Regions from separate parts of the Homo sapiens genome. Here all the other regions are linked to region 2. Evidence: fine-mapped expression QTL. A gene starts in region 2. Each other region holds a variant in brackets. All regions are shown on one strand. Distances are from middle to middle.

What was found. PIP is the estimated chance that this variant, and not a neighbour inherited with it, causes the effect.
Region 1: its variant is the best candidate, but not a certain one, in a credible set for the expression of ITIH5 in lung (TOPMed, PIP 0.58).
Region 3: its variant is the best candidate, but not a certain one, in a credible set for the expression of ITIH5 in tibial nerve (GTEx, PIP 0.57).

Annotation. Positions count from the first base shown.
Region 1 is chr10:7,568,543-7,575,433 of GRCh38, forward strand. It overlaps ITIH5 (inter-alpha-trypsin inhibitor heavy chain 5), which reads right to left. Exons shown (of 14, transcript NM_030569.7): 11 at 4,600-4,653; 12 at 1,126-1,242. Among named protein-coding and RNA genes, the nearest start is that of ITIH5, 95 kb to the right of the region's middle. The variant G/A (reference allele first, on the strand shown) is at 4,887.
Region 2 is chr10:7,664,599-7,669,598 of GRCh38, forward strand. It overlaps ITIH5 (inter-alpha-trypsin inhibitor heavy chain 5), which reads right to left and starts at 2,368. Exons shown (of 14, transcript NM_030569.7): 1 at 2,205-2,368. The coding sequence starts at 2,294.
Region 3 is chr10:7,578,479-7,583,478 of GRCh38, forward strand. ITIH5 (inter-alpha-trypsin inhibitor heavy chain 5) reads right to left here. Exons shown (of 14, transcript NM_030569.7): 9 at 1,277-1,586. Among named protein-coding and RNA genes, the nearest start is that of ITIH5, 86 kb to the right of the region's middle. The variant C/A (reference allele first, on the strand shown) is at 2,085.

The DNA.
Region 1 (6,891 bases), 95 kb before region 2:
CTGAGGCTATAAAGTCCCACAAGAAAACATGTGTTGAAGGAACCCCAGGATCAAACTCTACATAATTGCATCACACATATCACCTGCTGGGGGACCCTGTGCAACCCAACATTCCAAGACACGTTCTCAGCAGTGAGGAAGTGCCGGGGTGCCCACTCCAAAGCTTGTCCTCACAGAGCTGGACATGGTTTGTTACCTGCATCGAACTTGAAAAGCTTTCTCTGTGCTAATCTCTTTCACCCAAGCCCTCTACAGACCAACAGGGGCCACAGAGCCCCTTTGTCCATACATGTTCACGGCACACAGACAGAACTGTGGATTAACATGTGACATCCCATGTAAGTCATCAAGAAACTGACATGAGTTTAGAACCTTGGCCTCCCCGGCATCACAGCTTTTGAATGGATAGACACTATGACAATAATACACAATAATATATTGTGGTTTTCTTTTCTTTTTTTCTTTTTCTTTTTTTTTTTTTTTTTTTTTTTGAGATAGAGTCTTGCTCTTTTCACCCAGGCTGGAGTGCAGTGGCATGATCTCAGCTCACTGCAACCTCTGCCTCCCAGGTTCAAGCGATTCTCCTGCCTCAGCCTCCCGAGTAGCTGGGATTTCAGGTGCCCACCACTATGCCGGGCTAATTTTTTTGTAACTTTAGTAGAGATGGGGTTTCACCATGTTGGCCAAGCTGGTCTTGAACTCCTGACCTCCGGTGATCCACCTGCCTCGGCCTCCCAAAGTGCTGGGATTACAGGCATGAGCCACCGCGCCCAGCCTACATAGCGGATTTCTAAAGCACTTCAGCATTTAAAAAACAACTTCATAACCAGTTTCATTTGATCCATTTTATATTAGCTCTGTGAGGCCAAGAGAGTGTTCCTATCTCCATTTTACAAGGGAAACAACTCCCAAGGCATGTGCCCAAGGTCACACGGCACTTGTCATAAAGCAGGGAGTCGGATGCATAAGTCCAGGAGCGCAGTGCGCTTCCCTTAACCACTGACGATACTCACTGAGCGTCTGTAAGGTGGCCCTTGGATCACTGGACATCCATCTGAAGAACAGAGGGGGATGCAGTACCTACCTGGTCCTTGCCCAGATGCTGCAGCGGAAGGTAGAACTTACCAGAGTCCCTGTGATCAGAGACCAGCCTGAGGATGTCCCCGGGCTGCCCATCAATGTTGAAGCACACGGTGAGTCTGCTCAGGGGGAAATCCACAACAAAGTGGGGATCACCATCCACTGCCAGAGCAGAAGAAAACGGAGAGAAAAAGAAAGACACTTATTCAGTACCTTCCTTGTGTAGGTGCTACTCTCTATTTTCTCATGAATTATTTTATTGAATCCTGAAAACTATTCTGGAAGGAGGTGTCCTCAATTTCCAGATGAGGAAGATGAGTGGGAGGGAAACAACTCCCCAGAATTACCCAGTGAGTTTGCAGTAAACATTTGACTTCAGGTCTTCTAAATTCCAATATAATGCTCCTTTCAACACACCTCAGCTCAGTCTAGACAACTAAGCTTTGAGAGGTGAGAGGAGAAGGAAAGAGAGATCCCCACACACCTTCAACTGGTACTCAGCCCCCATGCTTCCATTTCCCAGGGGGACATCCCTTGCTATTTGCTTTCTCCTTTAATGGCACAGATGCAGAGGACTTTCCTCCCTATGATGGGAGATCTATGGTGCTTCTTCTCCCAGGAAGCCATGGGCTACCCCAGGCTCATTCGCAGCGTCAGCTGTACGCCACCCCTGCACGCAGGCACTGAGAGCCATGCCCAGCTTAGATGCAGAGGCAAGGGAAGCAAAATGCGAGTAGGCGGCCAGGCGCACAGTCAGGGTGCTGGCGGAAACCCCTCCTTTGGGTCACTCCGACTTCACTGCTCTGAAATTTCTGTCCACAGATGAGACCGCAAAGTTCAGCTGACAGTTCTTATCTGTTCTCCTCATTTTCACCTCTGTTAAAGGTGAACAGCCTTGCCTTTTATTATACAGACAGAAGATTTCTTGAGAATCTATATCAATTCTCTTACCAGATTGGAGATTTACCTTCTCTCTAATTTATATTCCAAGTGCAATTTGTTTATTTTATTTATTTTTGAGACAGGGTCCCACTCTGTTGACCAGGCTGGAGTACAGTGGTGCAATCAGAGCTCACTGCAGCCTCAAACTCCTGGGCTCAAACGGTCCTCCCACCTCAGCCTCCTGAGTAGCTGGGACTACAGGCACGTGCCACCATGCCAGGCTAATTTTTTATTTTTTGTAGGGACAGGGTCTCACTATGTTGCCCAGGCTGGTCTCAAACTCCTGGGCTCAAGCATTCCACCCACCTCAGCCTCCCAAAGTGCTGGGATTTCAGGCGTGAGCCACCACACCGGCCTACAACTTGTTTCTCAAATGCCCCTCTGCCTTCTGTGCACATGGACATGTCTGCATGCACGCTGTGCACGGTGTAGGCAGGGGCCAGGCAGAGTCCACTCTTTTTAAGCTGCAGCAAACTAACATCCCTGCATTGACTGCTGAGAAACCCTTTCTGCCCCAGCATCCCTGACACGGGCCCTTGAGAGGATCTGGCTGCTCTCCCTGGGAAGTGCCTCAACTTCCCTGAAAATTGCAACATATGAAGAAATTCAAGGTGCTGGTCTTTTGCTGATGGGGAAAAACTGACCCCCAGAGGAGATCAAAGTTCTCATCCACATTGCTGGCATTTTTCAGGCATGCACGCAGTTGTCTCTTGGTGTCCATGGGGGATTAGTTCCAGGACCCCCGCGGATACTAAAATCCACGCGTCCTCAAGTCCATGACATACAATAGTGTAGTATCTGTATACAACCTTCGCACAGCCTTCCATACACTTTATTTTTAATTTATTCTTATTTATTTATTTTGTTTTTGAGACGGAGGTTCACTCTGTCACCCAGGCTGGAGTGCAATGGTGCAATCTCGGTTCACTGCAATCTCTGCCTCCTGGGTTCAAGCGATTCTCCTGCCTCAGCCTCCCGAATAGCTGGGATTACAGGCGTGCACCACCATGCCCAGCTAATTATTGTATTTTTAGTAGAGATGGGGTTTCACCACGTTGGCCAGGCTGGTCTCGAACTCCTGACCTCAGGTGATCCACCTGCCTCGGCCTCTCAAAGTGCTGGGATTACAGACATTAGCCACTGCACGCAGCCTTTCTATACACTTTAAATCATCTCTAGTTTACTTATAATAATGAATGCAAAGGAGATGCGATGTAAATAGTTGTTACACTACATTGTTTAAGGAACAAAGACAAGAAAAAAAGTCCGTACACATTCAATACAGATGCAATTCCTTTTTCACGTATTTTTGATCTGTTGTTGGTTCGATCCTTGGGATGCGGGACCCATGGAGATAGAGGACAACTGTCTAGCTCATCTGACAGTTTTCTGAGAGTTTCTATGTGCACATACCACACCATTTCTACTCAAATTGTCCAAATTTCTTTACAAGGAAAGATAGTGCTTGCTCCAAAAAAGAGGGGAGGGTCAAAAAGTCATTACTCCAGGCAGCATCCAAGAGGAAGCTTTTCTGGCATTCCATAAAGCCTGTGTGTGTGTGTTGGAAGGAATTACATTCTGTCTCCCGCAGGCTGTGCGGACTCTATATCCACAGCTCATCTCCGGGATGTCCCTGGCTTTAGGAACTTGCACGTACAGCACAGCAGCAGAAAGGCAACAATCAAGACTTCCAGAGGATGATCTGGACACAGCAGAACAAAACCCAGTCATAGGTTGTTCTTTCCTCTGAATTTTTATTATAGTTCCAGGATGCTGGCAAAAGGAAATTTCATGACATTTGAAAAAATCTGTTCTTCCCTTCTGAAGCCACGAACTGAAAAAAATGAAAACAAAAACAAAGCCTGCCTGTCACACCAGACATTTTTATTTTGGTAGCACCATTTTATGTTTATGATAGCAGAGGCTGGAAGGATGCATGCTCCGGATCTCTAAAACAAATGTCTTCTAAACTCAATGAGGGTCAGAATGTGCCTCTGCCACCCATCTATTGGGTGGTGCAATATAGCTCACTGCAGCCTCATCGGGTTTCCTGCCAGGCTTCCTGGGGACTGTGCTATCTCCATGGTGTTTATGGGATGGTTTCATAACAGCTGCACTTCTCAGGCTCTGCCTCACACTGTGGGCTTGATACATTGCTGAATGAGCTGGTATTTTTAACTGGCTTCAAGGAATTCTTGGTTTTACACTTTTTTTTTTTTTTTTTTTTTTTGAGACAGAGTTTCACTCTTGTAGTCCAGGCTAGAGTGTGGTGGCACAATCTCGGCTCACTGTAACCTCAACTTCCCAGGTTCAAGTGATTCTCCTGCCTCAGCCTCCCCAGTAGCTGGAACTACAGGCCCCTGCCACCATGCCTGGCTAATTTTTGTATTTTTAGTAGAGACGAGGTTTCACCATGTTGGCCAGGCTGGTCTTGAACTCCTGACCTCAAGCAATACACCCACCTCGGCCTCCCAAAGTGCTGGGATTACAGGCGTGAGCCAGTACACCTGGCCTGGTTTTACACTTTTTAAACATCTCTTACTCTCAATCCACACACAACCGCATCCTTTGCTTTACCTGATGTTTTAGAGATTTTAATTCTTGGCTGGTATGGCTTCTTGAGCAAAGGTCCTAAAAGGGAGAAGGAAGAGAACATCATGGTCATTCCTTAAAGAAGATGAAGAGAGAGGTGCAAAGGGAGAGAGGAGACATGAGCAAAACACAGCTTTTAGGTACGTTTGTAACAGCTTAAATAATCAAAAGACCTTTAAAACATCATCAGTCTTAAAAAGGGAGCTTGGCCTCAAAACACACAAGCAGAGCCAGGCATGGTGGCTCATGTCCATAATCCCAGTGCTTCCGGA[G/A]GCCAAGGTGGGAGGATCACTGGAGCCCAGGAGTTCGAGACCGGCCTGGGCAATATAGTGAGACCCTGTCTCTACAAAAAAAAAATAAATAAATAAAATTAACCCAACAAGGTGGCACACATCTGTAGTCCCAGCTACTTGGGAGGCTGAGGTGGGAGGATCACTTGAGCCCAGGAGATCAAGGCTGCAGTGAGCTGTGACTGCACCACTGCACTCCAGCCTGGTTAACAGAGTGAGACTGTCTCAAAAAAAAAAAAAAAAAGGAAAAAAAAGAATAGAATAGAAACTACACAAGTGGAATGTAAAGTGTGTAGGATTAATTATTTAATTATTGTATGATTTAGATACTATTCTTTTCTGTGATTTTTGTGTATATTATAGGGGAAAATATTTTATCACACTTGAGATGTATTTATAGGGGAAGGGAGAAATGAGCTGTTGTTCAGTGGGCCTGTAGCATTTCAGACGTGCAAGATGGAAAAGTTCTAGAGATCTGTTTCACAACAGTGTGAATATACCTAACATCGCTTACCAGCATTGAACTGTACGCTTAAAAATGGGTAAGGTGGTAAATTTTATGTTCACAACAAAAACAAAAACAAACAATAATGTAATAAAAGAGGTACAGTTATAATCCAGTGTCTGTAGCTATGTGTGCGGCGGAATTTACAAAGCAGAAGATTTTGAAACACTTTGTATTTCAAAGTACTGGTGCTTTGAATAAATATTCAATGAAAGAATAACCTAAAAGTAATTAATATCTATAAATAAAATCAATATCTTACGTCAAATTGTTAGTACTAGGTAAAATTGTGCTCCTCTTCTCTGGTTTTTATTGCTCACAGAAATTAAAGAGTGAGATATCTAAAGGTTCTTGAAGTACTCCCTTCTCAATACTGGTCTTGACCAGCGTGATCTGGGCAGAATGTAGATTAGCCAGGAAAGAGGATGGATGACTGGATGACTGATTTGAGGAGTGGCAGCTGCCACCAACTCTCAAAAAAATTAAAATTTAAATTTAAAAACCATCAGAGCTTTAAGGAAAGGAAGAATCTTCATTTAAAAAACAAAAAACAAAAAACCGGCCGGGCGCAGTGGCTCATGCCTGTAATCCCAGCATTTTGGGAGGCCCAGGTGGGCGGATCACAAGGTCAGGAGATTGAGACCATCCTGGCTAACACGGTGAAACCCCATCTCTACTAAAAATACAAAAAATTAGCCGGGCGCGGTGGTGGGCACCCGTAGTCCCAGCTACTTGGGAGGCTGAGGCAGGAGAATAGCGTGAACCTGGGAGGCAGAGCTTGCAGTGAGCCGAGATAGCACCACTGCACTCCAGCTTGGGCGAAAGAGCGAGACTCCATCTCGGAAAAAAAAAAAAAAAAAAAGCAAAAAAAAACCCTTTCGAGTAGTCAGTTGGTTATCTCCTCCTCTGTCTTTCTGGCCCCCCGAGTCTTGTATGGTCCAGATCCGATCTCTCCTGAAGCTGTGGAGATTTGCGCTGATGACCTAGCATCAAGATCTTATTCAGAAAGCCACTTTTCCTGGATGTGGCATGGATCTCATAGGTAGAAAGTGATAGCATCCTGCCACATGCTTTTAATCACAACAAAAATTGTGTACGTTTTGCCAAGACAAGCTCCACGCTTTCTGAAATAGCCATGTCAATTGCAACCTCGCTATCAGGGTCCGAACTTTTCAATACATTTCTGGTATTCCGTGCCTCCACGGAAGGCGTGTCTGACATTTGTGCAAAACTCACTGTGTGCCCACGGCATTCCATATTTAGTTCTTACAACAGCCCTGCAGGGAAATTATGATTATCTCCGTGTTCAGGGCTGGGGAGTGGGAATGGAAGCTCAGAGAGGTTGAGAAACCTGCCTCAGGCCTCACAGCTGGTCAGGAGGGTTGGTGAATCCTAACTGCATGCTTTCTCCACACCCAGGTCCTTCTAAGACTTTAGAGTGTGAGGAATAAATGGGACAGCATTGGTGGGGTGCAGAGTAGG
Region 2 (5,000 bases):
AGTACCCACTGTCTACAGATGGGGTGAAGGGTGAGAGGTGAAGGAACTTGAATCTAAGGTGTTACTGGTATATTTCCAATTACAGGTGAATGACAAATAACTGCAATGCAAGTTAATAGTCATATTCAGCTATATTAAAATTTGCATAAGATTTGCATAGACTTACATTTTTCAAATTAAGTTTACATACAATTTTAAAGACCATAATGATTGAGAATAGAGTGCTCATTACATTCCCAGGTTCTGTTCTAAGATTTAAGTATATTAATTGTTTCACTTTTCAAAATCCTAAGTAATTGCATCATCCCCATACAGAGATAGAGGCTCACAAACGTTAAGTAACTCCTCAGTAAGTGCAGAGCCAAGATTTGAACCCAGAATTCTGGTGCTAAAGCCTATGCTCTCAAACCCTATATCACAAAAACTAAATATAAAAAAGAACGGATTAGGGATAAAAGGTAAAATTGCAAGTTCATAGAACTTTATACCTTGGATTTTTTTTCCTGATTTAGTCATTTTCAAGATAAATAAATATTGTGCTGGGTTGAAGACAGCATGAAATCACTAAAAGAGGTCAAGCCATGTTTTTTTATGACAGCAAGTCCATAGACTGTGAAGCCTACTTGAACTTGGTATATGCTAGAGTTTAAACAGCCTTCCTAGTTCAGACACAGAATCTTTGTTTCAGTCCATCCCACACTGTCCTGTCTCCACACCCCCAAAAAAGTTTCAAGATCTTTACCCTAAATTCCTTCACTCAGCATGTCAGCAGCATGAGTCTAAGACCATGGCCAGCATTAAGTGCTGACAGTGTTTTAAGCACTTGGGTGTCATAATGCATTCAGTCCTCACAACCCTATCATTTCTCCACATTTCACAGAAGAGGAATATAAGGCCGAAAGGCACTTGATCAGGGTCCCAGAGCTGATAAGTGACAGAATCAAGAATCAAGTGGTCCCAGACATCCTGGTACCAAGCCCATGCCTTCAGCCATCTACTAAAACATCTCCCAGTTATTGAGCGTCCACTGTATACCAGGTGCTTAACACAAATTAGCTGAGTCCTTGCAAGTTTGCTCAAAAAGAGCCGCATTCCCTGCCCTGACCAACGAGGACATGAAGGCTCTGAGAGATTAAAGGGCTTGCCCGGAACACACAACTAAAGCCCAGCCTGTCTCTGCATCCAAAGCCTGCACTTTTCCAACATCACTACGATGCCTCCTGGGATTTTATTAGCTACTCCCCCCCTAGAAGGAAGTATCATTACTACCACTTTACTGTTAAGCACATTCACAGGACAGAGAACATGAAGATAACTGTCTTCATATTTAGGCAGTTGGGCTTCAAAACTGCTCTTCAAAACAGGGGCTGGAAAAGGGAGAAAAGGTCCGCCTACTTGTATCTTCCTCCCACCGTGCACAAACACGCTGGAAGCTAAACGGCTTAAATATTTAAATGGCATGTGTGTGAAAGCACTTCTACTTTGTGACAGGGCCATGTTGCACATTAGCTCTCAATGCTATTTGTGTGAACCCGCTTCATACTTTTTAAAGACAAAAATGCTCTATTCATCATTTTATTGACATTTCATATTTGCAGGTTTTATTCGCCTGCGAGGTTAAGACATTTGAAACACAAATCCTGACAAACGCACAGACCAGCAACTCGAGGAACTCAGACGCTTTGGCTCTCGGTGCCACCTTTAAATGCTAAACCACCGGTAGGTAGTCGCTAAATGGGAAAGTCGTGTTCTCCCGGTTTTCAGGTGGGAAAAGCTGAGGCTCCCAGGAGTCTAGAACTCCTCTCATATTGCCTTTCTCCCTGGATCAACTGGGAATGATGATAACAGCAGACTGCCCCCCACGCGTGATAAGGAAAAAACCTTGTAATTATAATAACTTTTGGAGCTACCTCAGAAATTAACAACGACGAACAGAAATCTGCGCAATCAACAGGAGCCAAGAAGAAAAACTCGGCTCCGCAGGACAAGTCCCGGGCACAGTTCTGCAGGAAGCCTCAGGCCAGATCAGGCACCGCGGCTCACACAGAGGTGACGCACGAGTGACCCACAGAGAGGGACCCCTGGGCCTCTGGTGGGGGCCTGGGAGACGGTCGAAGGGGGCCCGGGCAGAAGCTCCGCGGCCGGGCCGGCGGAGGGAAGGGGGCGGCCGCGCCCGGGACCCGGCTCCCCTCGGCTCCACTTACCTGCTCCGAAGAGTGGCCCCAGCTCTGCGCCTCTTCCTGCGACCCCACACACAGGGACAGCCCCAGGCACAGCCCCAGCAGCAGGAGCATGGCGGGGCGAGGGCGCGGGACGCTCGGGGACCCGGCGGGACACGCTTTGCAGCGCCCAGGGCTCCAGCCACTGCGGGACGCTCTCGGGGCCGCCCACCCCGCGGTCCCAGCCCGGACCCCGCCCACCCCACGGACCCAGCCCGGACCCCGCCCACCCCGCGGTCCCAGCCCGGACCCCGCCCACCCCACGGACCCAGCCCGGACCCCGCCCACCCCACGGACCCAGCCCGGACCCCGCCCACCCTGCGGTCCCCTCCTGGACTCCGCCCACCCCACGGACCCAGCCCGGACCCCGCCCACCCCACGGACCCAGCCCGGACCCCGCCCACCCCGCGTCCCAGCCCGGACCCCGCCCACCCCACGGACCCAGCCCGGACCCCGCCCACCCTGCGTCCCCTCCTGGACTCCGCCTACCCCGGTCCCAGCCCGGACCCCTTCCACCCCGCGGTCCCCTTCTGGACTCCAACTCTCCCACCCCAGCCCAGACCCCACTTCCCCGCCCCAGACCTTCCCACACCCTGCCTCCCTGGACACCCCCCAAGCCCGGCCTCGCCTCCCTGTCCCCAGTCAGGACCCAGCTTCCCCAGGTCCCCAACCCCAAGCTCCGTTTCTCCACGCCCCCATTTCCCCCCACCTCCCCAGTCCCGGCCCCACCTCTCCTGTCCCTGTCCCCACCGAGGCCAACTTCCCAGACCCCACCTACAGCCACCCCCTTAAACCCGGCCCGCCTCCCTGTGGCCCCCACACCAGCCCCGCCTCCTCCCCAGTCCCCACCCCGCCCGGCGCCGCTTCCCGGCCTCAGTCCCACCAGAGCCGCGCCTCCAGCCCCCAGTGCTGGGCTAGCTCTGTTCGGGGAGAAGGCATTCCAAGCCTGCCTCGCCGCGCACAGCAGGGGCCACCTGTGTTGGCCCCACGGACCCCTCCCACACCCTCCCATCCTGCGGCTGTGACACTTAACCAAGGACCAGTCTCCTCTGTAGAGCCTCCTACTCCGTTTCTTGCCAACACCCACTGCCTCCCGGGCCCTACCCCACGCGCCCCCGCAACTCTTTCTTCCTCTCCCTCAAGGTGCAATATGCTTCTTTGCGGACTTGCTTAATTTCTGTCGCCAGAGGACGCGAGAAGGCCAGCCTGGTCCTCAGCACACAGCCCACCCCGCACCTGCCAGCCTGAAGCCGGCAGATCGTCCCCTCTGCATTGGCCAGGGACGCTTAATAGGCAGGACAAAGGATACTACCTGCAGTCTAGCGCAGGAGGGACTAGCAAGGCTGCCAGCCTTTATGTTCTAAGGAAACAGAGGAGACGAGGGAAGTATCTTGGTAGCGTGTAGTATTTCTGAGTTTCTGGTTATTAATCATGTAAGTGAGTGCCAGTATGTATCTTAGTTACAAACTATTGGTGATACTTCCATCCTGCCATTGGAAGAATTCTTACCCACCAGCCGTCCACACCTGGCCTTCTACAGGCTGAGTGCGTCTTTTTTATCTGGTGATACACATTGCAGTTGGGGCTACTTGTTTATTTCATGTTGCAAAGGATGTTTTTTATGTCTCTGTGATAATTTCATCTAAATAGGTGAGGTGAGTGACAGACCCTTTAAGGACCAAGAACAGGGAAGGGGCTAACTTCGGACCATGGAATAGAGAATACTATTCCATGCAGGTTACTATGGGGCCATTAAATAATCGTGCGACGTCTCCAGAAACATGGAGAATGTTGACAGTGTAATCTAAAGAGAAAATCACATCACCAAATCGTATCAACAGTATGATTGCAATTAGGTAGAAATACATATGGAGGGACATAACTAGAAAAAAAAAACATGAAAAATAAAAGCAGTGGGTAGGTTAGTTTGTGGTGAGATCCTCGAAAATATCTATTCTTGTTGAAATGCTCTTTGTTTAATGAATTAGGAGAGGTTAAAAACAAACACCTTGCTACTGTGAAATAAATGAAAGGAAAATTATTGTCATCAGCAGTTAATCCTTTAATAGCCTAACCACTAGTCAGCATGCAACCAATAAGAAACAACTGTAGCCGGTTATTTTTCCCTCCAGAGGAAAGTAACTATTTGTGAACCAGAAGTTGAATTGGACAAAGCCAGTTTATTTGCAATAGGGAACCATACAGCGGCCATTATTTCAACCCATGATTGCAACAGAACAGAGACTCCATCGTCTTTCCTTCCCTGCCATCCCTAACTTGAAATGCTGAAAGGGCCCATATTAAACTATTTTTGCCTTTATATCTGATCTCTTTTTTTTTCCCAAATTCATACTAACTGGGTTTTACAGCAGTCTAATGTTAAGAAAAGTGAGTTTTATTTTCATCTGGGAGGACCCTCTGATTCTACCCTAGACTGTGGTTCTAATGTGTTGTTTGTTTAATATAAAGCCAGTTTCTCCAACTGGATCTGTTCTTTGAGGACAAGCCTCTCCCCCAACTTCTAGAACTGTGCTAAATATATTGTTAGCACTTAAGGACCTTTTGATGAATGAGATTAGTAGATGGGAGGAATGAGTGTGGATGGTAGAGCCAGGCTGTGCCAGGGAGGTGGGGCTGGGCTATAGTGCAAACTTGACCGCTACCTAGCTGTATGACTTGACAGAGTTTCTGAACTTCCTATTATTTTCAAGCTGTAATAGTTCAGTATTCTATGTGACACCTGTGTATCTCTATGATGATCTTTAAAATCTAGGTAGGTGT
Region 3 (5,000 bases), 86 kb before region 2:
GTATCAGATTCTCCCCTTTGACTCTAGTTTTGAATAATTTTTAAAATGTGGAAAGCAAATCTGTGTTTTCATTTAAATCTTTCATTAAAATGCGTGGGAGGAAACGGTGGCGAATCCCAAACCGAGGACCTGTCTTTACTGCACACCTTAGGTGTCTCCATTTCCATTTATCATTAATAAATGTGCTTTGACTATGGCTATTAAACACCTATAAATCTACCCAAACCTCCCCTTTGCTTTTAAGTAGATACCACATATGCCACGATGCAGATTAAAGCACCTCACGCTGAACTGGGAGCTGGCACTTCACTCAATGAACAGCAAAGGAGCAGACTGATGCGTGGCAACATAATATCGGAGGGAAGCTATTTCTGTTTTAAAAGATCTGAGTTTTCTCCATCTCTCATTTAAAAGATCTCATTTATTCTCCACCTCAAAATAATCTGATTATTTAACAGTTTTATCTGATGGTTTTGCTTCCAAATAAAAGTATCTTTTAACTAGTACTCAAAATGAACATAACAGTACTCTGCTACTTGCTCACAGGGTAGAATAAAAGTAAACTTACTAGAAAGTGCTTTGAAATATCAGGATGTCAATGAACTATGAGAGCTCATTAAATACTTAATATGGGATGGCCACTGTGCCAGTGCTATACATAGTGTTTTTATATAGCGATTTTCTCATTAAATTCTGCAACCAACCATAATCCTCATTTTACAGATGAGAAAACGGAGGTACAGACTGTCTTAAAATCTTGCTTAGGGCCGGGTGTGGTGGCTCACGCCCATAATCCCAGTACTTTGGGAGGCCAAGGCGGGCAGATCACCTGAGGTCAGGAGTTCGAGACCAGCCTGACCAACATGGAGAAACCTTGTCTCTACTAAAAATACAAAATTAGCCAGGCGTGGTGGTGTGTGACTGTAGTCCCAGCTACTCAGGAGGCTGAGGCAAGAGAATTGCTTGAACCCAGGAAGCAGAGGTTGCAGTGAGCTGAGATCACGCCATTGCATTGCAGCCTGGGCAACAAGAGCGAAACTCCATCACAAGAAAAAAAAAAAAAATCTTGCCTAAAGTCATAAAGGAGGATCAGAATTCGAACTCTGATCTGCCTAGTTTCAAAACACATGGTGACACCTCCCATTGCAATGAGCTATGATCGTTGTCAGCAGATGCAAGGCTGGGGTGCAGCAACACACTCCTCTCTGAATTCCCACCGCAGCCACCCCTCAGCCCCTCAAACAGCCTCTCATGCCTACGAAGACAGACCACAGACCCGATGAGCTGCGAGCCTGCGTCCTCCTCCTCGTGCACGCGCCGTGTGAGGCCACAGTTCTCCAGCGACAGTTTCTCCAGCAGCCTGAAGTCCACGTCGTTGCCGATGCCAATGGTGAAGATGCAGACTTGGCCTCGGGCGGCCTCTCGGGTGTTGTTGAGGATCTTGAGGGTGTGCGTCTCCCCGACCGTGGGCTTCCCATCCGTCAGGAAGACGATGAGGGACACGCTCCGGTCTCCAATGCCACTGTGGGCCACGTACTTGTTGAGGAGCCTGATGGCCCTCTGCAGGGCCCCGTTGATGTCTGTGCCTGCAGGACACCAACACGGAACAGCTCAAGCCTCTGCACTCACCTCCGCACTCTGATTGCACTTTCTTTTTTTTGAGACGGAGTCTTGCTCTGTCACCCAGGCTGGAGTGCAATGGCGCAATCTGCACTCACTGCAACCTCCGCCTCCCAGGTTCAAGCGATTCTCCCGCCTCAGCCTCCCGAGTAGCTGGGATTACAGGTGCACACCACCACATCTGGCTAATTTTTGTATTTTTAGTAGAGATGGGATTGACCATGTTGGCCAGGCTGGTCTCAAACTCCTGACCTCAAGTAATCCGCCCACCTTGGCCTCCCAAAGTGCTGGAATCACAGGCATGAGCCACCATGCCCAGCCTGAATGCACTTTCATAGCTGCAGTTCACGCTCAACCACCCAAATGCTCACAGGAGTGAGGTGTTAAGGGGCCATCCAGAAACTTGCTAAAAGCAAGTGCATTTACTAAATGCATATAAGTGAATGGGGATTATCCCACTGTAA[C/A]AAACCTTCTCCAGAAGGCATGTGGCGACGCCTTAGCTTACCTGAGCTTCAATGGCTTCTGTGCCCTCTTCTGAGAATGGCTTTGAAAAGAGCAGGAAGGTGTTGAGCATAGAAGACAGCAGGAATGTGGAGGGAGAAAGAGCCGCAGAGGGGAGGAGGGGCATGGAACGAAGAGGAGGAGGGTAGCTGCTGACATCTCAGATGCCTTCCAGTGTTGTCTAGGGCTAGGTGGAGCTGATGAAAGAATGAATTTGTTGCCTTCATCGTCTCTCCTTTCTTTGCTTCCTGTCCCTTCAGATCACCTCTGCTTGCCAGAACCCCACAGAGAAAGGAGCCATGAAATATTTCTCCTCCTGGCCACCCTTTTTCCTTCAGAGGCCCTTGTCAGCAACAGCTCTGATTAAAGTTGGAGGCCAGCCAGGCACGGTGGCTCATGCCTGTAATCCCAGCACTCTGGGAGGCCAAGGTGGGTGGATCACCTGAGGTCAGGAGTTCGAGACCAGCCTCGCTAACATGGCAAAACCCTGTCTCTACCAAAAATACAAAAATTAGCCGGGCATGGTGGTACATGCCTGTAATCCCAGCTACTCGGATGGCTAAGGTCAGAAAATCACTTGAACCCAGAAGACGGAAGTTGCAGTGAGCCAAGATCGTGCCATTGCACTCCAGCCTGGGAAACAGAGTGAGACGCGGTCTCAACAGAAAAAATAAAAATAAAATAAATAAATGAATAAATAAAATAAAGTTGGGGGCGAAAGGGAAGAAAAATTTTATCAGGAATATGTGGCTTAGAAAAACCATACGAAACAGAAAACAAATCTCAACTCTGAGAAATGATGGAACAATAAACACCAATGACATTAGCAGGCATCTGTGGACAGCAGGAGGTTTTTCTCTCCTTTTTTTCTTTTGATGATTTTCTTTATTCCTCAAATGTTTTAGAATAGATACTTCCATGGAAAAAATGGTGTGAGAACATGAGCAGGCTTCTGGAGTTCTAAATGTTCTGTTTCTTGATCTGGGTCCAGGTTCTGTTCAGTTTATGAAAACATATCAAGTTGTACACTTACTACATGTACATTTTTCTGCATGTATGTTACACTACAGGTTACTGCTTCCTTTAAAAAGAATGTTCCCATGTTTTCTTTTCTTTTCCTTCTTTTTTTTTTTTTTTTTTTTTTTAGAGACAGGGTCTCACTATGTTGCCCAGGCTGGTCTCGAACTCCTGGGCTCAAGCAGTTCTCCCACCTCAACCTCCCAAAGTGCTGGGACTACAGGCATGAGCCACCATGCCCGGCCACCCATGTATTTTTTTTTTTTTTTTTTTTTTTGAGATATAGTCATGCTCTTTCGCCCAAGGTGGAATGCAGTGGCGTGATCTTGGCTCACTGCAACCTCTGCCTCCTGTGTTCAAGCAATTCTCCTGCCTCAGCCTCCCGAGTAGCTGGGATTACAGGCACACGCCACCATGCCTGGCTAATTTTTGTACTTTTTTAGTAGAGACGGGTTTCACCATGTTGGCCAGGCTGGTCTTGATTTCCTGACCTTGTGATCTGCCCGCCTCGGCCTCCAAAGTGCTGGGATTACTGGCAGGGGCCACAGCACCTGGCCCCATGTATTCTTAAATTTACTACTTTATGATTAAAATAAATCAGACAATTTAAGTTTGGGAGCAAAATAAATAAATAAAGTTGGGGCCTGTGTCTTTGATAGGAGCTGAACAAGTATTTGTTTGGTGGATGGGGAGACAGGTGGTTGGGTGGTTGAGGTTGAAACCCCAGCTACAGTGAGGTTTCTGGGTTAGCTAAGAATTCCACTGGACTAAGCTACCAACATCCCACCATTACCAAGTAAAGCAGAGACCTTACTGTAGTGTGAACACCTATTTCCTTTGTTTTTTTTTTAAAATGGCTTAAGATAAAATCTACATACCAAAAGATCACCCATTCTAAGTGTCCAATTCATGATTTGTAGTAAATTTAGAGTTTGATGACCATCACCACCATCCATCATCCTGACTGGAGTGACTTTTCTCTACCTGCAAATTTTACCACATTTGTGGTACATATATACCATGGGGCACTATTCAGCCACAAAAAAGAATGAGATCTTGTCATCTGCAACAAGATGGATGGAACTGGAGCTCATTATATTCAGTGAATTAAGCCAGGCACAGAAAGACCATCTTCCCATGTTCTCGCTTATTTGTGGCAGCTAAAAATTAAAACGATTGAACTTATGGAGATAAAGAGTAGAAGGATGGTTTCCAGAGGCTGGGCAGGGTAGTGGGGGGTGGGGCAGAAGTAGGGATAGTTAATGGGTACAAAAAGAAGTTAGAAAGAATGAAGACGATCTAGTACTTGGTAGTGCAACAGGGTGATTATATTCAATAATAATTTCATGATACACTTAAAAATAACTGAGTATAATTGGATTGTTTGTAACAAAGGACAAATGCTTGAGGTGATGGATATCTCATTTATCTGATGTAATTATCACACAATGTATGCCTGTATCAAAATACCTCATATACCCCATAAACACATATACCTACTCTGGACCCACAAAAATTAAAAATTAAAATTAAAATGTACCGCATCTGAGAGAACCAGATCATCTCCCCCACGGCTTAACATCCTCCAGATTTTCTAGCTAAAAAAGTAGATAAGGCTATGTCCATGACCAAATGTTCATAATTCTTGCTAAGATGCAGAGCCCAAATGGAAAGAAAGTTATTTTACATTTTATTGGAATCACTAATTTGCCTTTCTTTTGTTTGTTTGTTTTTGAAACAGAATTTCACTCTGTCACCGGGGCTGGAGTGCAGTGGTGCGATCTCGGCTCACTACAACCTCCGCCTCCCAGGTTCATGCAATTCTCCTGCCTCAGCCTCCCCAGTAGCTGGGACTACAGGCG